Linked DNA regions of Homo sapiens. The protein of the gene in region 7 purifies or fractionates together with the protein of the main gene of each other region. This does not show direct contact. Each region holds a gene or a part of one and is shown on either strand. Other genes may lie near its edges. The genes, in order: DHX15, SRRM1, CAPRIN1, TSR1, PTPN12, BPTF and DEK.

Region 1 (3,500 bases), on a different chromosome or scaffold from region 7:
ATAATTTATATACTCTATTTCTTAACAGGTAGTTGTGTCAACTAACATAGCAGAGACGTCTTTGACAATAGATGGTGTGGTGTTTGTGATTGATCCTGGATTTGCGAAACAGAAGGTACATATTTAGTGGATACTTTATAAATTAGAGTTGGTTTAACAGTACTTACAACCAATTCATTTAATGGCTAAAATTTACCTTTCAGAATTATTTTCCTATCTTTTTTTTTATTTGCAAATTTCTGCTGTATGAACCCTTTATGTTTTGGCTGGCTCTCAGAAATTAAGACAGTATTTAATATGTAATTCTAGGCTTTTTTTTCTTTTAGAGTTGCTTTGCTTTCTTTGTTTCAGTGTAGTGACGGTGGGTGTTTTGGCTTGTATATTCATTTAACAGTATGGGTTTAGTAATAAAGTACAGGATTTCTATCCCTGCAGTTCAGTCACTTCTCCCAACATTATTAGAGTTACTGCTGTCAACTAGGCACACTATTTGAAAACAGTACTATGTTACTCCTCTAGTTTAACAGTGCTGTATACTAAATGAAGTGAAATGCAGGTGAAGTGGCTATTCAATAAATACGTTTTATTTTTCAAATATCTTTTGGATAAATTGATTACATTTTGTTATTGATGGAAATTTTTTCATTAAACAGTAACAGAGTAATAGTACTCAGACCGTCGAGTTTTGAAAGTGAAGGTTTCTTTTCGGGCAGAATCCTTGACTGCCCAGCATATAAAAAGCAAGGAACAAGGTCAGCCTGATAGAACTGAAATTAGGAGGAGTAAGGATTATATAAGCTGTGTGTTTGACAAGAAGTTTTTCATGTTAGAGTCTTTCAGATGATCGAATTAGAATGTCTGAAAGAACTTTAAGGTTCAGGATGGTGGGTTGTCTATTGTAGCAGCATGATTTATGGCTATCGATATTTCTTTATTTATTTTGGAATTAACTGTGGGCTTTGGATACTTCTGTTGCATCACAATTTTGTGTTTGACTGAAGAAAGACTCTTGTGTTATTTCAATTCCAATAGGTCTACAATCCTCGAATCAGAGTTGAGTCCCTTTTGGTGACAGCTATTAGTAAAGCTTCAGCTCAGCAAAGGGCTGGTCGAGCTGGACGTACCAGACCTGGAAAATGCTTCAGACTTTACACAGAGAAAGCTTATAAAACAGAAATGCAGGTATGGGGTATTGTCGTTTCCTGCCGATATGTTTAAAATGTTAGGTTGAATTATCTTACCAGAAGAACATTGCCTTATTTACTTAATCTTGCCTTTTAGGATTAAAAGCTCCTTAGCTTTTCCAGGAGTGAAATGTATGGTGTAATTAACTTAGATAGTCGTACACCCCCTTATTCCAGGCTGATACATTCCAAGACCCTCCCCCTCCCACGCCTAAAAACTGGAATATGCTGAACCTTACTTACATATACTATGTATAAATATCTTTCTTTACAATTTCACTGATAGAAGATGCATTCTTTCTTTAGATGTGATTTTTTTGCTCTTTTGTTACTAGGTTTCAACTTTTTTTCTTTCCTTACTAACTTTCAGCGTTTCACTTAAAGGAAGCACTTCAGGGCCTCTCATTGGCATATCCAAATTGCCAGCATCAATATTCTTGGCGCTTTGGGGCCATTATTAAGTAAAAGGTTACTTGAGCACAAGCACTGTGATACTGCAAAAGTTGATCTAATAACAGATGGTTGCTAAGTGACAAATGGGTGTATAGTGTATATAGCATACTACTAAGAATGGTGCACAATTTAAACTTGATGAATTTTTTCTGGAATCTTTAAAATTTTTTCTGTTGACACTGCTTAACTGAAACCATGGAAATTGCGAGTTCAGATGAGTGAAGACTACTATACGAATTTCTTTCTGCAGTTGCGAGTTTTATGGACAGTAGCAAACACTGAATACTATAAAGATAGTTGGAGAAAAATGGTTTCTCTCTAGTCTAGCCTACAAGTATTTATCTCTACTGAGACAGTGTAGAAGTAATGCCAAAACAAATAGCTCAGGAGGCAGCAGATTTTTGTTTTCTGGAACGAGGAGACTGAGGCATTTTTAACATAACCAATAAATGTTTTTGTTCTTTGCTAGGATAACACCTATCCTGAGATTTTGCGTTCTAATTTAGGATCAGTTGTGTTACAATTGAAGAAACTTGGTATTGATGACTTGGTACATTTTGATTTTATGGATCCACCAGGTATGACTTATCAAAACACATTTTTATCAGATCTTTTAACCAAAATTGACTCTTAGTGTTTTTCTCCATCCTATTTAATATATGTATTAAATACATTTTGCTTTTTCCATCCAGTATGCATCAAGATTAAGTCTTACATGATAGCATTAAAACTAAAAAAGGTGACAGTTATATGAGCACATTTTTTTTTTTTCTTCAAAAGTTATTATGGGGGGGTTTGGGTAAATTGAATTATCCTCTGGGCATGAAAATGTGAGAATTCCTAAGTTTTCTTTGGGGAAAAACAGTTTGATAAACACATTGATGAATTAGCAATTATTTAATGTATTTCGGAAGAAGACAGTTTTGCCTACAGGAAAATTTTGCAATGTTTTTATGATTCATTGTTTGCTAGATCTGTATAATTGAATTGGATGACAGTTTGAGTTTGAGTTTGGTCCACTGCAAAATGAAAAATGAGATTGCTTATAATAGTTTGTACTTTGTCACATTTTTGCTTGCTTAAGGCACCGTGTCTAATAGATTGTCTTTTACCACTAGCTCCTGAAACTCTGATGAGAGCCCTGGAACTTTTGAATTACCTGGCTGCTTTAAATGATGATGGAGATCTGACTGAATTGGGATCCATGATGGCAGAGTTTCCTCTAGATCCACAGCTCGCAAAAATGGTTATTGCAAGTTGTGACTACAACTGTTCTAATGAGGTCCTATCTATTACTGCTATGTTGTCAGGTAATAGAGGGAAAGGAACAAAAAAAAGCCCAGCTCTTCAAAGTTTGGGTGGACTTCACTTTTGTTTTTGTTTTTTAATTTTTAGTATGATAGTGGATTTTATAGATGGTTTTAAGGAATTAATTTTGTTTTCTAAATACCTTGTAAATAGCTTCGTAATGACATAGTGCTTACAAAAGTAAAGTAAGTCATTGTGCACAAAAGATAAGTAAAGCATTGGCTCTCTTGAGTGCTAATAAAAATTGCAGTAAGTTTGAGCACAGTTGTAACTGAATTCTTTGGTTAAAGGTCCATCACTGCTATCTTTGTGGTTTTTTTGTTTTTTGTTTTTTACTGCAAGTACAGGAAGAACTTTGCTCTAGTACTTAGCTCTATTAAGTGTGCCTGTGACAAACTGAAAGCTATACATTAAGTTGAGCCTTTTCTATATATGTACTCCAATGGCACCCGAACAAACATGAATTTCAAACTTCATATCAAGTAAATAGAAATAGTAATGTATAATTTTAGGCTTAAAATCTAATCTGATAATGGTATTCTTTTACAATGGTAG
Region 2 (3,500 bases), on a different chromosome or scaffold from region 7:
ACCAGTCTTAATGCGTATCTGTAGTGTAGGTGAAGAAAGAACAGGTCTGGTTCAAAAGAAGAGGCCGATGAAATGATAATAGCATTGGTGTTTAACACACGTAGAAAGTAGTCTTCAGTTTGTTCTCAAATGTTCAACTATGTGTATTTTGAAAACCTGGTCTTTGCAGATTGAACAAGAAAAACTGGCATCTATGAAAAAGCAAGATGAAGACAAAGATAAAAGAGATAAGGAAGAAAAAGAAAGCAGCAGAGAAAAAAGGGAGCGGTCTCGTAGCCCAAGAAGGTATCATACAATAGATGCATAACTGATGTTTTACAGGTACTTTAGGTCTTAAGAAACTTCCTTAGTTAAAAAGGAATCTAACAGCGCTATTCAAGGAATTTGTTCCATCATGCAGTTTTCATGGTGACCTGTGCCTTGCCTCTGGACTAAAGAAATCTGTCATATTTTGTTTGAGACAGATAATTTAGCCATGAGTGTCTCGCAGATGTTCATAAATTATCCAACTCTAAATTCCTAAATCAAAACTTTAAACTTTTTCTTCCATATTGCTTTAGTTCATAACAGTTAATTTGGGTTTTTAAAAATGTACTCTGACTCACTTTTTCTTTCCATTTCCTTTCTTCTAAAAAGAAATCTGTACTCGAAATCTGTACTCATTAGCCGTTCATGTAATACTTACCTAATTCCCTGTTCTGCTTTTCTTAGATGGTTGTACTGAACCCAAACTTCAGATCATTTATTTGTTTTCTTCTTCCAGTGAGACTATTGTTAGGTTCACATTTTTAAATCCACGGCTCAGCTTCTATATTTGTGGTGAAAGGTGAGAACTCCATTAGGCTTTTTATTTTTAGGGTTCTGCTTATTTCTTTCATAAATGTCTGCTGGAATTAGTAAAGAGAAGAGGTAATTTCTTTGTCCCTTTCATTTATATATTTGATACTAAAATCTCCTTATGGAAGTAATATTTATAGAGCTAAGCACAAATTGTCATGGTGGTAACTACTTGACTATTGATGAAGTATGTCTGCCATTTTCCTTCTGTGTGAATAAGAGAAAAACCCTTCGAGTTAGGCAGGCTACTGTTAAGAAAGAGGGCTTCTCCTCTCGCAAAAAAGCTATCTTCTGGATGTTTGATGTATATTTCTCTTTTCTGAAGAACATGTTGCTTTAATGGTATTAGTCATTTTTCTGGCATACTGAGGCTCTTCCTGATGAACTCCATTGTAATCTGTCCGCATCTAAATGTTTTATGTTTGGGAGTTTGATTTGTTGTCAAGGATTATCATTGTTTGCTTTAAAGCATCCTCTTTGCCTCTGAAAAGTTGGTCTTTTGATCTCTGGGAATGATTAAGAACCTAAGTCTAGAGTCCCAAGTTAGTGCTTTTCTCCCTTATAACTGATATACTCGAGAATGTTATCTTTCATTTGCTTGTCTTTCTCTTCCCTGTCAAGTAGATTAGGTTAGCATGTCTTATTTCCATAGGGAAACATCTCAGATATAAACAGTAGTGTAACTAAAGATTAATCCTCACTTCTCCCTTTGACTCCTCTCTTCCAATCCATGTTATTTAAAAACCTGAAAAAAATTACTTTCATCCTAGACGCAAATCCAGATCTCCTTCCCCTAGAAGACGATCTTCCCCTGTCAGGAGAGAGAGAAAGCGCAGTCATTCTCGATCTCCCCGTCACAGAACCAAGAGCCGGAGTCCTTCCCCTGCTCCAGAAAAGAAGGAAAAAACTCCAGAGCTCCCAGAACCTTCAGTGAAAGTAAAAGAACCTTCAGTACAAGAGGCTACTTCTACTAGGCAAGTATATAAAAATTCATTTATAAATAATCACAATTTTAGATTAATAGTGACTGCAAATATGACATCTGAGTTAAAATAAAACTACTTATTTTCCTTTTAGATTTTTTAAATTATAAAATTAGTTTGTTGAAAAGAAATTGTTTAGGAGAGTATATTAGAAGAAAATGCCCCAGAGGGTGACCATTACTATCTTTTGGTTGTATTGTTTCAGGTATTTTATATATTGTAACTTGCTTTTTTTCCTCAACGTATTGTGGACAACTTCGCACTTTTAAGAAATGTATGTGGTTGCCAGATGCGGGGGTGCATGCCTGTAATCTCGGCACTTGGGGAGGCTGAGGTGGGTGGATCGCTTGAGCTCACAAGTTAGAGAGCAGCCTGGGGCAACATGGTGAAACTCCATCTGTACTAAAAATATATATATATATATATATATATATATATATATGTACACACACACACACAAATTAGCCGGGCATGGTTGGCACATGCCTATAGTCCCAGCTACTCAGGAGGATCACTTGAGCCTGGGAGGTTGAAGCTGCAGTGAGCCAAAATCATGCCAGTACACTCCAGCCTGAGTGACAAGAGTGAGACCCTGTCTCAGAAGAAGAAAAGAAAATGTACATGGTTGGAATTATTAGTTGCTCTCTGGGTTTCAGTGATAGGTACATACATACTTATGTGTCTTTTGGAGATAGAGACAAGTCTGTGAATTTTGAAAAGTTTTAGAAATACTTTATTACATCATTGTGTAATGATTTAGAAGGCTGAGTACAAGAAGGCAAAAAAAAAAAAAAAAGCTTTTGTTTCCACAGTGACATTCTGAAAGTTCCCAAACCTGAACCTATACCAGAGCCTAAAGAACCTTCTCCGGAAAAAAATTCCAAAAAAGAAAAGGAGAAGGAGAAGACCCGACCACGATCTCGGTCACGCTCCAAATCAAGATCCCGGACGCGGTCCCGCTCTCCTTCTCACACTCGACCTAGACGGCGCCATAGATCCCGATCAAGGTGAGTTGTGGCTTTAAGATCAACAAAGATCTTAGGTTTTATATACTACTCTACTGGGTACAATTAGATAAATAATTTCAAAGTGGTAGAAGATGTTTAGTACAAATATTTTTTGAATGTACACAGAGAATTTGAGGACACTTTTCTGTGTACCATAAAAATCTACATAAATGGAAAATTTTGATCTTTGAAATTTATTTTTTAGATGTGGCCATTGAGAAAACTAAGCCAAGAAATTCCTCACTCCTGGTTTATTCAGGACCTAATTCTCTTTGTTATGGCAGATCGTATTCACCTAGAAGGCGGCCAAGCCCAAGAAGGCGGCCATCTCCTCGAAGAAGAACTCCGCCAAGAAGAATGCCTCCTCCACCAAGGCATAGAAGGAGTAGATCTCCAGTAAGACGGTAAGATTTTTTAAATTTGGAAGTGTCAAGTGTTTGACACTTCTGGATAATCTTTCTTTTAGGATAATCTGTAAATTAGTGTCCCCTGGAAGAAAGAACTGATAGGTGATATTAGACAATGTCTTCTAAAGAGTCTGTTTCATTTGAAGTGTAATGCAGTTGTTCGTGTTATGAAAAGTGTCTAGTCTGGTGTTGGAAAGTAAACGAGAAATTCATCTTATTGATACTTTTCTGTTAACTTTTACCCTTCTAGACTTCACCAAGAAATC
Region 3 (3,500 bases), on a different chromosome or scaffold from region 7:
CAAAAAATAATTTGAACTAGTAAAAGGTCATTAGAACCTCCTTTTTTATTTTTTTACCTCTGAATCCATTGGCAGGGCCCCGGTATCCATTCATCAAGCCTCTAGCACCACGGGAGCCTCCACGAGACACACCACGACTATTGTAATAGGGCTGATTGCTACGTGGAAATCCAGTGTTCTGCTGAGGAGGCTGCTGGTGGTTACCAGTCACTTGATGGGACTGGTCTGGGGAACCATGGTAAGTGCCAACCACTATAATTTAAAAAAGAAAAAGATATATACATAAACAGCTCATTACCGTTTGTTCTCCCACGCACTTTCTAGTTTAAGAAGTGTCTTATACAGTCTCCTTAAAGTTTAATCCTTAAATTTGCATACAATGATAAGAAAAACTACACATGAATAAAGTCTCTTACCTTTCTCCTACCCTTAGACTCAGCTATTGGGGGTAAAATTCTCCAACCACAATTCCAAACCTTTGAAAGCAGGGTGCATGATTGATCCTTCCAAACAAATTATTTGAAAGGCTATATTAACGTCTTCTGAAAGGCATCTACTTTTTAGCACAAGAGACCCAAAATAACTCAAAAGATTTACTCTTAGTACATTACCATTTTGTACCATTTAATTACTTCTTTTCATTATAAAGCTCCTTAGTGGTAGAAGTTTTCTTATTCTTTTAAATATCCTTTTTTTTACTTAGTAAAACATACAAAACCACTCTCTCATATTTAAGCAGCTAGATGGTAGAATATGTCATCAACTACATAGTTTAATCAGCAGAGGCCTTCGACTTGTAGCCCTTAATGCCAAATTCCATTTCAAAGTATTTAAAATGGCAAGTATAGCCAATTTAGAAAACAATCACATGGTACTCACATTGGCACTCAACCCACTTGAAGGTTCTAGACTAAGGTACACACTAACATATATACAAGCTCCATCCACAATGGACAGAGTTCTAGAATCTAGAAATTTTCAAAAATTCAATACTACAGAACAATGTTTATAATTCAAAGAGGAGAAAAAAATAGGGTGCTAAAAGTACCTTTGGGAGGTGAGGAAGGCAACAGAACAAAGGAAGGCCCACACACTAACAACAAGGGTCAGAAGCTGCTGGCCAACCCAAATCTCCCCTTTTGGGGCAGAGAGAAAAGCAGCTGTATGACTCTTGAAAATCTTTACTTGACCTATTTTACACCCTTAAGAAACTCCAAATACATTAATAGTTGTTAGAATCCTATTTTACGATGAAAGCACTAGGGAATACCTAGAGAAAAAGAGAGAGCCACTGCTCCTCTTGAATTACTTAGTAAACCAACTACATCGGTGTCATCTTTTTACATAGATTGCCTTTTATTATATTCCCAAAATTTAAAATTGTAAGTGAATGACAAATACACATAACATTTTCCTTGTAAAATGGTTCATGTGTATCCATGTACAAAGTAGCCAAAAGAACTGAATTTTAGAATCATTTTATCAATAACAGCTTTTAATCTTGATCAAATCTCACTGTAAGAAATTCATAGCCAGGCTGGGTGTAGTGGCTCACACTGGTAATCCCAGCACTTTGGGAGGCCAAGCTGAGCAGATTACTTGAGCTCAGGAGTTTGAGACCAGCTGGGCAACACAGTGAGACCCCATCTCAACAACAACAACAACAACAAAATACAAAAAATTAGCCAGGCATGGTGGTGCATGCCTGTGGTCCCAGCTACTTGGGAGGCTGAGGTGAGAGGATGGCTTAAGCCTGGAAGGAAGAAGTTGTAGTGAGCCGAGATCGTACCACTGCACTCCAGCCTGGGAGACAAGAGCAAGACTCTGTCTCAAAAAATGAAAGGAAAAAGGAAAGGAAAGAAAGGAAGAAACTCACAGCATAATAACTTAAGTGTGATCTTTATTTTATTTAATTTTCACTTTTAAGACAAGGTCTAGCTCTCTCACCCAGTACTGCTGAGGTTGGAGTTCAGTCAAATAATCTTGGCTCACTGCAACCTTGAACTCCTGGGCTCAAGTGATCCTCCGGCCTTAGCCTCCTGAGTAGCTACAACTACAGGCATTCACCACCTCACCCTGCTAATTTCTGTATTTATTTTATAGAGGTGGGGCTCTGTGTTGCCCAGGCTGGTCTCAAACTCCTGGTCTCAAGTGGGCCTCCCAAAGAGCTGGGATTACAGGCGTGAGCCACCACACCCAGCCTTCATTTTATTTTAAAATACCCAAATTCCTACTTAAATTTTGGTAAAGTATAAACTTGTAGGCCATTTTAAAAAGCCAAAGATTCTGTCATGTTGTTCCTGATTAGACACTAATTCAAAATAAAATTTCTAAAATGATGGGACATACTGAAATGATTTCTTCAACAAATATCAGGCCGGGAATGGTGGCTCACGCCTGTAATCCCAGCACTTTGGAAGGCCGAGGCGGGTGGATCACCTGAGGCCTGAGGCAGGAGGCCGAGGCAGGAGAATCGCTTGAACCCAAGCGATTGAACCTAAGAGGCGGAGGTTGCAGTGAGCCGAGACTGCATCACTGCACTGGACAACGGCCCACAATGTATACATATTATTTCATCATGAACGCCTGGCCTCAAGCAATCCTGCCACCTCAGCCTCAAATGTAGCTGGGATTATAGGTGCCAGCCATGAAGCCCGCCCACAACGGACACACATTTCAACACATCATGCTGTATACCATAAATACACATATATATAGTTTCTACTTCTCAATTAAAAATAAACAAATGAACTTTTTTTAAAAAAATAGAAAAAGCAATCCATGTACTTATCAGTGGGAGAAAGTTTTCGGCAAGAAGGAAAGTAAGTATGAAGGCCCTGAGATTAAAGAGAACTTGCTGCGTATGTGACTGGTGTTCGAGACCAGCCTGGACAATATGGTGAAACCCTCTCTCTACTAAAAATACAAAAAAAAAAAAAATTAGCCAGGCATGGTGGCCTGTGCTACTTGGGAGACTGAGGTAGGAGGATCCCTTGAACCCAGAAGCAGAGGTTACAGTGAGCCATGGTGATCACACCACTAGTTTTTATCATTTGGAAGCTGAGCATAGTATAACTGATAACTTCTATCAGAGTATGGAAGATTCGAGCTTCATATTAGTGATACTGAATACTACAGGATGTGTAAGAATTTACTACTGAAAAATCTAATGCTGATCCAAGTTTACCAAGAAATTGAATAATTAGAAAATTTTACAACTTTTCAAAATCGGGCTGACAAAATGAAAGTATTAACTCCTCTGACTGCTGGTTTGTTGTGGGATTCCAATTAAATTCTGAGGAATTAAAGAACTAAAGAAGACATCATGGTGGCTCATGCCTATAAGGTAGAGGTGGGAGGACTGCTGGAGGCCCTGAGTTTGAGAAAAGCCTGCAGTCCAAGCTACTTGTGGGGAGTTAAAGGCTCCAGTACAGGATTTGAGCCCCAGAGTTAAAGGCTCCAGTATCTGATTACACCACTGCACTCCAACCTGGGCAACA
Region 4 (3,500 bases), on a different chromosome or scaffold from region 7:
ACAAGAGCGAAACTCTTATGTCAAAAAAAAAAAAAGTTTATGCCAAAGTGCAGATCTCTTTTCTCTTGGTGGCCAGTAGTTGTGTATGTTGTGGGGTATGTGATAGTTCTTTGATCGGTTTTGGTAAGGGCTCAAGAAGAAGGGGCTTGAATGAGTGTGGTTTTGAGATTGTGGTGAGTGAATGCCTTGAAGGCCACTGATTTTTGTGTGGCAGATGTTGAGCTCTTTTCTGTTAGGTGCAGGAAGGTAGGTTAGCATTGAAGGGTGCATGAAAGCTCTGATCAGCCTGTGTTTGGCTTAAATGCCAGTCATTGGTGGAGGTAAAGGATGAACCCGTGTTTCAGCATCTACACTCCACCATTAATTAGCATTGTCAGTTCTTAGAATGAGTCTGAATCTGCTAGTTTGGTTTGCCTTCTTTCAGTTTAGGCAATTGTATTCCTAGACTATGAAGATTTTTGTTTTTCTTACTTGGTCCCCAGATGTCAGTATTGAATATGGTGGTGAGGCGTGACCCTGGCAACACTGAACCTGTGAAAGCCAAGGAAGAGCTCATATTTCACTGTGGATTCAGGCGCTTCCGAGCCTCACCTTTATTCTCTCAGCACACTGCAGGTTAGCAATGGGGAAGCTGGGTTCTTGTCCATCTTGTCTTTTGGGAAAGTGACTTGTGGTGGAGGGGTGCCAAAATATATGGTTTCAAAATCTTACATCTCTGGGTTAGAGGTATTTTCAGTACTCTGGCTTAAGAGCCAATGATGTTTTTATTCAAAATGTCTGAACCTGTCTGAAGCATCCCAGTGATGCAACTTCTGTGTGATACTGAGGCTTTTTTGCCATGAGTATTTGTTCCATAGCAGGTTTTGAATAGAAGTTGGCAGCTTTATAAAAAGGGTATTAGGGTGGGTGCAGTGGTGCAGTGGTTCACACCTGTAATCCCAACACTTGTGGCATTAGAACGGGGAATTGAAGACCAAAAAAGGTAAGATTTAATCTTGTTTTTGTTTCTGTTTTTTTTTTTTTTTTTTTTTTTTTTTTGAGACGGAGTCTCACTCTGTCGCCCAGGCTGGAGTGCAGTGGCGCGATCTAGGCTCACTGCAAGCTCCGCCTCTCAGGTTTACTTACACCATTTTCCTGCCTCAGCCTCCCAAGTAGCTGGGACTACAGGCGCCCGCCACCATGCCCAGCTAATTTTTTGTATTTTTAGTAGAGACGGGGTTTCACCGTGTTAGCCAGGATGGTCTCTATCTCCTGACCTCGTGAGCCGCCCGCCTCAGCCTCCCAAAGTGCTGGGATTACAGGTGTGAGCCACCGCGCCCCCTCTTGTTTTTTTTGTTTTTTTTTGTTTGTTTGTTTGTTTGTTTTTTTGGAGACGGAGTCTTACTCCGTTGCCCAGGCTGGAGTGCAATAGCGTGATCTCGGCTCACTGCAACCTCCGCCTCCCGGGTTCAAGCAATTCTCCTGCCTCAGCCTCCCGAGTAGAGTAGTTGGGACTACAGGCATGCACGACCATGCCCAGCTAATTTTTGTATTTTTAGTAGAGATGGGGTTTCACCATGTTGGGGTTTAGTAGAGATGGGGTTTCACCAAGACCAGGAGTTCAGGCTGGTTTTGAACTCCTGGTCTCAGGTGATCCGCCCACCTCGGTCTCCCAAAGTGCTGGGATTACAGACATGAGCCAATGTGCCTGGCCTCTTTTTTTTTTTTTTTTTTTTTGAGACCGAGTCTCACTCTGATGCTCAACTGGAGTGCAATGGTGCAATCCAGGCTCACTGCAACCTCTGCCTTCCAGGTTCAATCAGTTTTCCTGCCTCAGCTTCCCGAGTAGCTGAGATTACAGGCACCCGCCACCACGCCTAGCTAATTTTTGTATTTTTAGTAGAGACGGGGTTTCACCATGCTGGCCAGGCTGGTCTCGACCTTAGGCGATCCTCCTGCCTTGGCCTTCCAAAGTGCTGGGATTACAGGCGTGAGCCACTGCGCCTGGCCAGTCATTCTTTTATTGTTTCAAAATGGTTTTGATTTTTTTTTTTAGGATGAACTATTTTCATATTTTATACAGTTGGGAAAATAAGGAATAATGTAAAAGTAAAATTACCTTATATTAGAGAAAATTCATTTTTATTTTATACATTTTCATCCAGATCTCATTTTTTTTCTTTACACAATTTGGATTGTAATTGTAAATATGGTGTTAAACATTGCATTTATCACTTAATTGATTTTGATCAATTTTCCATAAGATTAATTAGTTAATGAGACTTTTAATGCTTTATTGTCATTTGGATATATTCCAGTGTATGTGATGTACTGATACTTATTTGAGCTTCTACGGGTGAGCACTTAGGCTATTTCTAATGTTTTGCTCTAAACTAGATCTGTATGCATAAAACTTTATTTACTTCTTTGCTTATTTTGTAAAGGCAGATCCTTAGAACTGGAACTAAATAAAAGTCTCAGTTGCAGAGACTGAGGCAGGAGGATCGCTTGAGGTCAGGAGTGTGAGACTCCGGTCTCTACAATTTTTTTTTTTTTTTTTTTGATATAGAGTCCAACTCTGTCACCAAGGCTGGAGTGCAGTAACATGATCTCAGCTCATTGCAGCCTCCCCGTCCCAGGTTCAAGTGATTCTGGCGCCTCAGCCTCCCAAGTAGCTCGGACCATAGGTGTCTGCCACCACGCCCAGCTACTTTTTGTATTTTTAGTAGAGATGGGGTTTCACCAAGTTGGCCAGTCTGTTCTCAAACTCTTGACCTCAGGTGATCCACGTGCCTTGGCCTCCCAAAGTGCTGGGATTTATAGGGATGAGCCAACATGCCCGGCCTCTACGAAAAAAAAATTTTTTTTTTTGGGAGATGGAGTTTCACTCTTGTTGCCCAGGCTGGAGTGCAGTGGCAGGATCTTGGCTCACTGCAACCTCTGCCTCCTAGGTTCAAGTGATTCTCCTGCCTCAGCCTCCCAAGCAGCTGGGATTACAGGCGTGTACCACCATGCCTAGCTAATTTTTCTATTATTAGTAGAGATAGAGTTTCACCATCTTGGCCAGGCTGGTCTCAAACTCCCGACCTCAGGTGATCCACCCGCATTGGCCTCCCAAAGTGCTGGGATTACAGGCATGAGCCACTGCGCCCGGCCAAAAATTTTTCTTTTTAATTAGCCAGGTGTGGTGGCATGTGCTTTGCAGTCCCAGCTACTTGGGAGGCTGAGGCAAGAGGGATTGCCTGAGCCAGTGGGCCCAGGAGTTTGAGGCTCCAGTGAGCTGTGTTCACACCACAGCCCTTAAAATATTTTATTTTCCTATAAGTTTAGTATTTTTAAAAGGGGGGTGAGGGCTACATTGAAGGTAGAACACCAAATACAGTCTAGCCTAGATAGCAGAGTGAGACACTGTCTCTCAGAATTTAAAAGGGTGTGATAAAGTGTGGAAACTTTGATGTCTAGTGTGCCAAGGGCAGTGTGGGTGAAGGAATGGAGGCTGGGTATGGCTCATAGTTGGGTAA
Region 5 (3,500 bases), on a different chromosome or scaffold from region 7:
GTATGGTTTGCTTAGATTCCGAGTATTGCTCTTTCTGTTAAACACCTGCAATAACCATTCTCAAAACATTTGACATCAGTACTCCTTTACATTCTTCAAAGTTATTGAGGATCCCAAAGTTTTTGTTTCTGGGGGTTGTATCTTTCAGTATATACTATATTTGAAATTAAAACTGAGAAATTTTTAAAAAACATGAATACATAAGCATATATTGTATTGGCTGTTAAAGAATAAGGCACGTAACATTTTAGTATTATTCTGAGAATTATTTAAAGCTCATAGACTCCCTCAAAAGGGTTGAGGGGAGGGGGTACCCAGACCGTATATTGAGAACCACTAATCTGTAAGAAGACTAGTGAGTTTGGCATTGGACAAATTCATCTCTCCATTCTTTTTCAGTTTAATGTTCTGTTAGTCTTCTGATTACAATGAATACTACTCTAACCTACTCTAACATGGTGCTTACGGTATATTGCTCATCCATTTAATAGTGTAGATTAGTTAAATAGTATATATAGTGTTATGTTTACAGTACATGCTCTGGAAGTAGAACTGCCTGGTTTAGAGCCCACACTTGTCACTTCTTAGGAAAGTTTGGGCAAGTTATTTTATCTGTATATCTCAGTTATAAAATGAGGATGGTATTAACAGTACTTTCCTCATGGAAATTAAATTGTTACATGTGAAGCCCTTAGGTATTTGGCATGTGTTTAACAGTCAATAAGTGTTGGCTATTATTTATTTGGGTTTTTTTAAAAGCAGTGCTAAATGCCACACAAATTTCTTAGAAATGGCAGTTTAAATGAGCTGTGCAACTTTAAACTTTGCAAAGTATTTTCATAATTGTTGACTTTCTGTTTTTCTTGAAGGAATCTCGTAGGCTGTATCAGTTTCATTATGTGAACTGGCCAGACCATGATGTTCCTTCATCATTTGATTCTATTCTGGACATGATAAGCTTAATGAGGAAATATCAAGAACATGAAGATGTTCCTATTTGTATTCATTGCAGGTACAAAAGAATTTCCCAAGTTTATAAATACATTATTTAAGTTTGATGTTACACAAGGTTTTATTTCTGCATTAATATGTTAGTAATCTTGAATTTCTCCTAGCCTTGATACAATGTTTGGGACTAGGGCCTTGTAAGTTGATGTGGTCTCATTTGGTTGACAGACCGTTTAGAGTATTGTTGCATTAAAACACAGGATCATCTATTTGAAAATAGTATTCACATGGTGGGAAGCTATAGAACATACTCTTTTTACTGTTCACTGATTAGAGCATATAATCTCAGATCCTCATCATACTCTACTTTCTAAAGTCAGTATGGTAGTATTTTCTTTTAATCAATTTCCCTGAAACAATGACCAAGCAATTTTCATTCCTGATAAACACTGACATGAGATTTTTAAAAACAGGATATTGCTCTGATGCCCAGGTTGGAGTGCAGTGGCACAATCATAGCTTACTGTAAACTCAAACTCCTGGCCTGACGTGATCCTTCTGCCTCAGCTTCCCAAGTAGCTAGGACTACAGGCATGTGCTACCACACTGAACTAATTTTTTTTAATTAAAAAAAATTTTTTTTAAGAGACCAAGTCTTGCTCTGTTGCCCAGGCTGATCCGAACTCCTGTCCTCAAGTGATTCTCCCACTTTGCTCTCCCAGAGTCTTGGGCTTACAGGCGTGAGCCACTACGCCTGGCAACATGACTTTCTTTTTTTAATATATGTAAGATGTACATACGTAGGTCTTATTGATCTAAGATATCATCAATTCTAAGACACACCATTATTATATATATTAACAGTAAAAAAATCACTGCCAATTATAAGGGGACAATGTCATTTGTAAGAAGCCATTGGTGGTAAGATACATACCAATCTCAGAGCTGTTACATTGAGATGAAAAAGTGTGTTTTAGTTTGATGAAAAACTAAATGCTGTTTTTATTCTTGGGGAACATCAGTTTCCACGTTTGCACCACTTCCTGTCATATCATGAAATTTTATAATTTATAGCTACTGAAAAATTTAAAGCCGGAAGCAAGCATTCTTGTAGTAAAGTAATAAAAACTATTGATACACATTTACTAGACATTTTTATTATGTTTTATAGTAGATTACTTCATTATAAGGATTACATAAAATTCAATGATTACTGACCTAGTTAAGCTACCTCTGAATGTGAAAGGACAAGTATAGGTGCACCTACTTTAAATTGCACAATATAAATCTTTTCATTTATTCAAATAATATTTGAAGTTCAGTTAGGTTTTGCAAAATTACTCGTTTGGATGTGTTAAGAAATCATGTAAACTCTTCCTTTGACTTTGGGGGAATGAACATGAGATTTGTTTATTCTTGGGGGGCAGTTAATTTTGTATTCTAGAAGGGGGGTTAATGTATAATATATTTTAGCTAAGAGAAATCAGTTTAAGATAACCAACTTTTCTTAATCTAACATTTTGGCTTATTTCTGTCATCTGGTCATTCTCATACAAATAATACAAAGCTAAATATACATAATACATATGCACATATATGTATATGTATACATTATATGTAATACATAAAACAAAGCTAAATTTGTATTATGGATTTAGGAGTGTAATGGAAAATACCCCTTTAAGAGGAAAAGCACAAAACTGAATTAGTCAAGAAAATAATAAATGTTTGCAATAAGTGTCATGACCGGGTATAGTGGCTCAGTGCTTTGGGAGGCCGAGGCAGGATGATTGCTTGAGCCCAGAACTTTGAGGCTGCAGTAGACACCAATTACACTACTGCACTCCAGCCTGGGTGACATAGTAGACCCTATCTTTTAAAAAAAAAAAAAGAATATAGGTATCATTATAATATGGGTGATACAGGATATTTTGAAACCTAATTTTTGGAATTTCATTATATAGGTATGGGTTTCTACATAGTAGAAGCTACTTGAATCCTTAGACAGTTTTTCTACTCTGAATTTTTAGTTTACATTAGATTCTTCTAAAGGCCTTACAGTCATAGTACTTACTTCATAAGACTGCTATCAATTTATTCCTCTAAGGGACTTGTTATCTGCATTCACATTTGTTATAAAAAGTAAATGAGATTTTTCAAACTTAAGAGATTTATTTTTTATTATTTACATAGTTAAAATATTTTTTCAGTGGAGTTGAAGCATTGAAGATAGTTTTCTTATTCACTTGGTTTGACCGTAATGCTCATAATTAACGAAGTAAAAGGGCTACTTTTTATTCATGGGCCAGGAAAGTAACTTGCTGGTGGAGATGTGGGAATCAGTTAACAACTTGGTTCATTAAAACTATTTTTTTCTGTGGTTAATTCAGTGGTTAGTTGACCATTTAATTAAGTAGGATTGACCAGTTAAAAATAAACAATATGTTTAATTATAGAATTAAAAGATAAAGAAATTGCTTTCACTTTGACTTCTTATAAGTTAGTTAAAATAATTTCCTGTTCAATCATAAATCCATTTGTATAGGAAGGCT
Region 6 (3,500 bases), on a different chromosome or scaffold from region 7:
TTACAACAACACTGAACCATAGCAATAATTTTATAAACAAGATACTGAGACATAAAGAAATTAACCACCTTGTTTGACAAACAGTAAGTAATACAGCTGAAATTTTAACCTGGCTATCCTTCTCCAAAGGCCGTATTTTTAACATTATGCTTTCTTCCCAGGAATGAATTTTAAAGAACTGTCCCTCGTCTCCCCTATACAAAGATTAGCGGATAGACAGACAGTGTAGTAATTCTCAGTTTATAGATACACAGTAAAGCTGGGTAATAATACATTTAAATATAATATATATGACCGTCATTTTCATAAGAATACTACATCTTTAAAATAACTTCGCTGTGTAAAAAGTGCTTCTACATTTATGACCTCATTTAATCATTGCAATAATCTCATGTGGCTGGAAAGAGAAGGGTTTTAAGAGGCTATAGCTAAGGAGGGATAAGTGAGTTTCACGGACTGTGAATGGGAGACCTAGGAACTGAATGAAGGTCTCACAACTTGGTAACACTTAAAATCCACATTCAAACTCCTGCCTAGTGCTGAGCGAAGCAAGCTATAGGTAGATGAAAAGATGGTTTCTGCCAGTAATGTTATCAGATGTTATATGTGTGACTTCACTTTAGTAGACTAATTCTAACTCATCTAAATTGCTTTATTTCACTAATGTGCCATTGCAAGATGTTGCTGGATGATGCCACTTTTTACTTAAGCTATGAAATAATATGTTTTCAAAAACTTTTTTACAAAGGTGTGGCTAGAAATGCAAATGAGTTTAATCTGTCTATAATTTGCATAGTCTACATGCAAACTAAGGAATGACAACTTTCAATAACTTTAAAGGAATTGCTATAATGTCTGAAGTGGCTTTAAAACTTAGTTAAACCCTCAAGTTTTATATTAAAGATTAAAGCTCATAACTCCATTCTTCCCATCTTAGTCCTCCCAAAATACAGGTCATTCCTAATAAGCACTGACTATATATTATATGTATCTAACGAAGTGTTCCACACCACAGTAGTCATTCAGTATTTTTTTTGGTCAATTCAGTGTTTCTTCTAAATTTAAACATTAATGACTTTGTCTCATTTAGGAAACCTAACACAACCAAACACTAATTCTACTGCACAGCACAATAATTCAAGCTACTGAACATGCTGCTTTTACTTAATAACTTTACCTGTTTCTGAATGATTTCACTTTGATTAGAAGCTTGGAGGGTGTGTTCACGCTTAATTTCTATCTGTTGCTGTTTCTTCTTTTGCTGCTGATCCCTGAGTTGCTGAACCCTTTGCAACTGCTCTTGCACACTGGCTGCCTGCACTGTAACCACATTCTGAATCTGGTGAGTCTGCACAGCACTGCTTTGCTGAATTTGGATAGGTAACTGGAGTTTGATTTGCTGGGGCACACCACTTTGCTGAGCCTGTATCTGAGCCACAACCTGTGACTGGATCTGAGAGAGAACCTGGACTTGTTGTTGCAGCTGAGGCACAGCAATGACTTGGGGCTGTGGCTGCTGTATTTGTAGCTGAGGACGGGATGGGGATGAAACAGTAACTTGATTTAAAGTTTGTCCTGATGAAAGAGTTTGAGTTGAAGACTGTACCTGGGGTTGTGACTGTGGCTGGCCTTGGGAAGGTATCTGAAGAGATGTATGTGGTTGAATTGGAATCGGTTGTGAGGTTGTAGTCTGAACCTGGGATTGTTGTCCAGGAGACAGTTGGGATGGAGTTGATGGACGTATTCGAGTCTGTGATGGACTTTGGACACGAACAGGAGACTGTCCTTGGACATTACTTTGAGGCTGAGACTGTGCTGCAACTTGGGGCTTGGATGACTGTGCGTGGGTGGGTTGTGCTTCAGAAGGGACATGGGATGAAACAGTTGTTTGGGTCTGAACTTCAGGCTGAGTCTGAACTTCAGGCTGAGCTGGGGACTGGGGCTGGGTTTGGGGCTGGGGCTGAGCTGAAGGCTGAGCAGTCTGTGGCTGGGCTTCTGCTGGACCCACACTTGATGACTGAGCTGGTGGCAGGGTTTTGTCTTGATGTACCTGCATCTGGGGTGACAGTTTACTCTGCCTTTGTTCACCTGTACCTGTAAAAAGGAAAGATGAACCATTTCTATTACTCTGGAACATAAAACTGTGGTTAAAGAAGAATCTGAAGGAAATCTTCTGAAGTTGAGAATTCTGGCCAGGCGTGGTGGCTCACACCTGTGCACCTTGGGACGTTGAGGTGGGAGGATCGTTTGAGCAACATAGTGAGACCCCGTCTCTACACAAAAACAAAAAAAATAAAAAATTATCTGAGCATAGTGGAGCATGGCTATGGTCCAAGCTACGTGGGAGGCTGAGGTGGGAGGATTGCTTGCGTCCAGGAGTTCAAGGCTACAGTAAGCAGTAATGGTGCTACTTCGCTTCAGCCTGGGCGACAGAGCAAGACCCTGTCTCGAAAAAATAAATAAAGTAAATAAAGTTGAGAATTTTGTATTTTGGTACAGAAGGTCTATGCCTTTGAAATGCTCCATTTGGACACGCTTAGGGCAGGACGCTCTGAAACTGGGAAGCCTGGGCCCTGCTTCTTGGCTGTCCCCTGTACACTCTCCTAACTCTAGAGGGCTGGTTTCCAAAGTAAGTTGCAGCCTCTGGAAATCAGCTGGGTCATCTGGCCCAGGCTAATTGCCACGCTTCACTTTTCTCCCATGATGTGGTGGTAGTTAGTTACAATGACTTGCAGCAGAAGGTCAACAAAGTGGTTCTGGACCCACTCTCAATCTGAGGTCATGAACTGGATTTACCCACCCTCCCTGAGATCACCTCCATGACTGAATCAGCACCTACAAGGCTTAGCAAGGAGTAAGTGTGGGCATAGTTACCAAGATAACCATTATTTTTGCCCCCTTTCTCTCTCTCTCTTTTTTAATAGGAGGGAGAGGGTGGTGGTAACAGGGAGTCTGTAAGAATAGGGTACAAAAGCTTCGAGACGTTGTGAGGCTGACTATGTCAACTGTTGAGGTCACTGGCTTGAGGCATATCCTTCCAAAGGTAAATACTGGTTCTCCTGTTGGCCTCTGTTAGCCCAGCCACGTGTAGTAGTAACATCCGACATTTCCGATAAACCCACAGCTCTACCTGCTGCTGTCGTGGAAACAGTGGTGGTGGTGGTGCTGGCTGTGGTGGCTGTTGTTGCCAATGGGGTAAAGAGGAATCGCTGAACAGTACCATTTGGCATTGCAGCTTGCATTAGCTGCTGGCCTGGGCCTGGGAGTACAGTCACCCCTTGAGGTATCAACTGCAACTGTCCAGTAGTTTGACCTTGTCCTTGAATTACTACTGTCAAACCTTGATTGCCACCCTGTGGAAAAAACACAACATGTAAACAGTGTTCAAAGCATCAATCTGTATGTATATCATTTTTATTAAATCATTTTTATGTGTAATTATCTTTTAATATAATGAAAATACATATTTGAATGTCACCAGCAGGAATTTAGATAAGCTA
Region 7 (3,500 bases):
ATACATTTTTTTCTAAGTAAGAAGAAAACCGATGAACTTAGAAATCTACACAAACTGCTTTACAACAGGCCAGGCACTGTAAGACCTTTTTACACTTTAAACCTACTTGTATATTACTTCACAATGGAATCAATTTCTGTAAATGTTAGTGATCCACTAGTTCAATTTCCACACTTTATGACTGAGCAGACTGAGGTATATACTTATTAAATGATTTATCACAGGAAACACAGCTGGATATTAGCACTTGGATTATAATATCCAGGGCTCTGTCTTCTTTTTTCTTTTTCTTTTTCTTTTTTTTTTCTTTCTTTTAAGACACGGTCTCACTTTGTCACCCAGGCTGGAGTACAGTGTGCAATACATGGCTCACTGCAGCCTCAACCTCCTGGGCTCAAGTGTTCCTCCCGCTTAAGCCTCCCAAGTAGCTGGGACCACAGGTGCATGCCACCATACTGTGTCTGGCTAATTGTTTTACTTTTTGTAGAGGCAGGGTTTTGCCATGTGCCCAGGCTGGTCTTGAACTCCTGAGCTCAAGTGGTCCTCCCACCTTGGCCTCCCAAAGTGTTGGGATTACAGGTGTGAGCCAGTATGCCCAGCTCTAGGGCTCTTTCTCCTGTAGTAGTTTTTATTCCAAACTGAAATTTCAAATTACGAAATCCAAATTGTGATGAAAGGTTTTAGTGACCTTTAAATGTATTGAAAGAAATTCATGTTTTTGGATTTTCTCGACATTCAGAATAAGTGAATGTCGGTATGATTTGTATGAGATCATACATATGATCTCATTTGTATCTCATACAAATAAGAGGCAAAATCATTTGTATCTCATACAAATCTCATACAAAGTGAATTTGGTGTAATTGTATCTCATTTTTAGCAAATACCTGATAAATTGGATGATAGTTCTTTGCTAAAGGATTGTTATTATACTGTACATATGACTTAGTATATTATATAATCGAGGGAACTGCTTTAGGTTGTACGTGGGCAAAGTAAAGTTGGGTGTTAGAATGTCTGAAGTAGAATAGAATGTCTGGTGCATGACATAATTTATTTTCAGTGAGTCTGTTAATCTCATTTAATCCTTAAACCAATTTAATTTACACAAGTCCCATAACTAGTGAACGGTATTAGCTTTTTGTGGTACTCGCTATTCTTTACTTTGAAAGAATAAAGTCCTTCTTGATTTGGAAAAGAAGAATTACTAGTAACTTTATTACTTATGAAAAGGATATATTTTTAAATAGTAACTTTCCACATCCCCTGGTACTGTCAGGTAACTTTTGGTTGTGGTAAAAACTCCCCAGTGAAAATTTGTTCAAATTGTTCTTTTCAGAGACTTAAGTTTGTAGGATTTTTATAATGTTAATATGTTAATGACAAATACATTTTTCAGTTTTGAATAAGAAATGTTGAATATTGAACCCATATTGAATTGGTTGACTGTTCAGCCAGTATTGTAACTTACAGACAGGTATGAAAATAAAGATGTTGACTTTGAATTGGCTTTGAATTTATTCTTGTGTACATTACTGGGTAATAAATACCATTAATAATAAGGAACATTTTCAGGTGTCCTCATTAAAGAAGAATGTGGGTCAGTTCAGTGGCTTTCCATTTGAAAAAGGAAGTGTCCAATATAAAAAGAAGGAAGAAATGTTGAAAAAGTAAGTTATTTTTATAAATACTGTATTTTGATCAATATGCTTTAAGTTTATTTTTTAATGTTAAATCACATTCGGGCCAGGCACAGTGGCTCACACCTGTAATCCCAGCACTTTGGGAGGCTGAGGCGGGCGTATCACCTGAGGTCAGGAGTTTGAGACCAGCCTGACCAACATGGAGAAACCCCGTCTCCACTAAAGATACAAAATTAGCCGGCTGTGGTGGCGCATGCCTGTAATCCCAGCTACTTGGGAGGCTGAGGCAGGAGAATCGCTTGAACCTGGGAGGTGGAGGTTGCGGTGAGCCAAGATTGGGCCATTGCACTCCAGCCTGGGCAACAAGAGCGAAACTGTCTCAAAAAAAAAAAAAGAAAAAAGATTCATAGAAGCATTGGCCACTTTTTTAAATGTATGTAACTGAGCCAATTTGGTTGGCTTTCCCTTTATATTGTGGAGAACATATGTAAGCTTTCCTATATTAACACCTTGGTTTCTTCCATTTTCTGTTTCAGATTTAGAAATGCCATGTTAAAGAGCATCTGTGAGGTTCTTGATTTGGAGAGATCAGGTGTAAATAGTGAACTAGTGAAGAGGATCTTGAATTTCTTAATGCATCCAAAGCCTTCTGGCAAAGTGAGGATCAATTTTTATTTTTTTCATAAATCAGTTATTCATAGCCTCTTTATATGAAACAAAAATTGATTAATAACAGCATTGCTGTCAGTATTCGTTCATATCTACATTCAAAGACTATACCTTCTGTTGACGTATCTGCAGTAATTTCCTGATAGAAATAATATAGATGCCATAGGGGTATGTTGCTTCGGAAAATCAGATACAAGGGATATAAGGTTAAGAATAGTGAATTAATGTCAGAAGGGACAGAAAGTACTAGTAGTCAGGGTTAGGTATCTAGAAGACACTGGAAGAATAGGAAGAGGTTGGGCTGAGGATGAGGTGCAAGGCTGGAGGGAAGGGGTGCAACCTGTAATCAAGTGAAGACAAAATAGGGAGTATATTAGAACTGGATGTTTTCCTAGATCCTGGAATAAAGTATTAAAAAGTGACATTTAAAAGCTAACTCTTACAAGTTTCCTATATTGGGTTTCCAGAATCTGCAGCAGAGCCCAGGAGCCAGACAGGGAAGTAAAATGGCCTTACAGTTTTCTCACTCTTCCTAAAAGCTAGTAGGTTTGCCCTAATTATTTAATGGTAACGAATGACATAGGTGACTTAAAATGTCTGTTGAAGTGTTACATGACCTTGCCTTTTTAGTGTGATTTAGGTCTGTCAGCAAATGTTTTTATATTCTTCCCCATCTTGACAGGAAAGGAAGTGTGAGAGATCTAGCAGGCCTAGGAGTTCAGGGGAATGCCATCTCTGATGGGAGATGGCATTAATCAAAACCAGAAAATAGCTCTAGGACTTCGTTTTCGTCCGCCCTTGGTCCTTATTACCATTAGCTGCACGAGGACAGATAAACAGCAGTTAAAGTGTAAACTTTTGTTATACAACTACAAACGCAAGGGGTATGATGATTTTTGGTGTTTTAAATTGGCTTGTTTAAAGACAAAATACTTCTTATTTTCTAACTTTTACTATAGCTATACTTGTACTTTTTAAGGATTTAGTGTGAGGCAAGGTGATCACTATTTCCTCAGAAGCAATTTACTAGGTTGTTATGACAGATATTTTTATATTTATCTTTTTCTCAGTGGTTTTCCAATTTATTGGTTTCAGGATACTGTTGCCCTCTTAAAAAATTAGTGAGGACCCCAAGAGCTTTTTTTAATATGAGTTATTTTGATCTTCACTGTATTTGACATTAGAACT

What was found.
Region 1: the proteins of DEK (region 7) and DHX15 fractionate together in Homo sapiens (co-fractionation; one large-scale study listed by BioGRID). This does not show direct contact.
Region 2: the proteins of DEK (region 7) and SRRM1 purify together in Homo sapiens (affinity purification with western blotting; 2 studies listed by BioGRID, with this or other methods). This does not show direct contact.
Region 3: the proteins of DEK (region 7) and CAPRIN1 fractionate together in Homo sapiens (co-fractionation; one large-scale study listed by BioGRID). This does not show direct contact.
Region 4: the proteins of DEK (region 7) and TSR1 fractionate together in Homo sapiens (co-fractionation; one large-scale study listed by BioGRID). This does not show direct contact.
Region 5: the proteins of DEK (region 7) and PTPN12 fractionate together in Homo sapiens (co-fractionation; one large-scale study listed by BioGRID). This does not show direct contact.
Region 6: the proteins of DEK (region 7) and BPTF fractionate together in Homo sapiens (co-fractionation; one large-scale study listed by BioGRID). This does not show direct contact.

What each region holds. Positions count from the first base shown.
Region 1 is NC_000004.12:24,539,555-24,543,054, reverse strand, and holds part of DHX15 (ATP-dependent RNA helicase DHX15), read left to right. Parts: intron 1-28; coding exon 29-115; intron 116-1,032; coding exon 1,033-1,182; intron 1,183-2,106; coding exon 2,107-2,215; intron 2,216-2,755; coding exon 2,756-2,947; intron 2,948-3,500.
Region 2 is NC_000001.11:24,649,802-24,653,301, forward strand, and holds part of SRRM1 (serine/arginine repetitive matrix protein 1), read left to right. Parts: intron 1-169; coding exon 170-285; intron 286-1,607; coding exon 1,608-1,811; intron 1,812-2,632; coding exon 2,633-2,827; intron 2,828-3,111; coding exon 3,112-3,231; intron 3,232-3,500. UniProt on the Homo sapiens protein: Part of pre- and post-splicing multiprotein mRNP complexes. As a component of the minor spliceosome, involved in the splicing of U12-type introns in pre-mRNAs. Involved in numerous pre-mRNA processing events.
Region 3 is NC_000011.10:34,093,231-34,096,730, reverse strand, and holds part of CAPRIN1 (caprin-1), read right to left. Parts: intron 253-3,500; coding exon 58-252; intron 1-57. UniProt on the Homo sapiens protein: mRNA-binding protein that acts as a regulator of mRNAs transport, translation and/or stability, and which is involved in neurogenesis, synaptic plasticity in neurons and cell proliferation and migration in multiple cell types.
Region 4 is NC_000017.11:2,326,458-2,329,957, reverse strand, and holds part of TSR1 (pre-rRNA-processing protein TSR1 homolog), read left to right. Parts: intron 1-482; coding exon 483-615; intron 616-747; exon of another isoform or gene 748-833; intron 834-3,500. UniProt on the Homo sapiens protein: Required during maturation of the 40S ribosomal subunit in the nucleolus.
Region 5 is NC_000007.14:77,599,795-77,603,294, forward strand, and holds part of PTPN12 (tyrosine-protein phosphatase non-receptor type 12), read left to right. Parts: intron 1-869; coding exon 870-1,012; intron 1,013-3,500. UniProt on the Homo sapiens protein: Dephosphorylates a range of proteins, and thereby regulates cellular signaling cascades. Dephosphorylates cellular tyrosine kinases, such as ERBB2 and PTK2B/PYK2, and thereby regulates signaling via ERBB2 and PTK2B/PYK2.
Region 6 is NC_000017.11:67,944,003-67,947,502, reverse strand, and holds part of BPTF (nucleosome-remodeling factor subunit BPTF), read right to left. Parts: intron 3,354-3,500; coding exon 3,131-3,353; coding exon of another isoform or gene 3,019-3,130; intron 2,095-3,018; coding exon 1,178-2,094; intron 1-1,177. UniProt on the Homo sapiens protein: Regulatory subunit of the ATP-dependent NURF-1 and NURF-5 ISWI chromatin remodeling complexes, which form ordered nucleosome arrays on chromatin and facilitate access to DNA during DNA-templated processes such as DNA replication, transcription, and repair.
Region 7 is NC_000006.12:18,254,531-18,258,030, reverse strand, and holds part of DEK (protein DEK), read left to right. Parts: coding exon 1-78; intron 79-1,575; coding exon 1,576-1,670; intron 1,671-2,179; coding exon 2,180-2,300; intron 2,301-3,500. UniProt on the Homo sapiens protein: Involved in chromatin organization.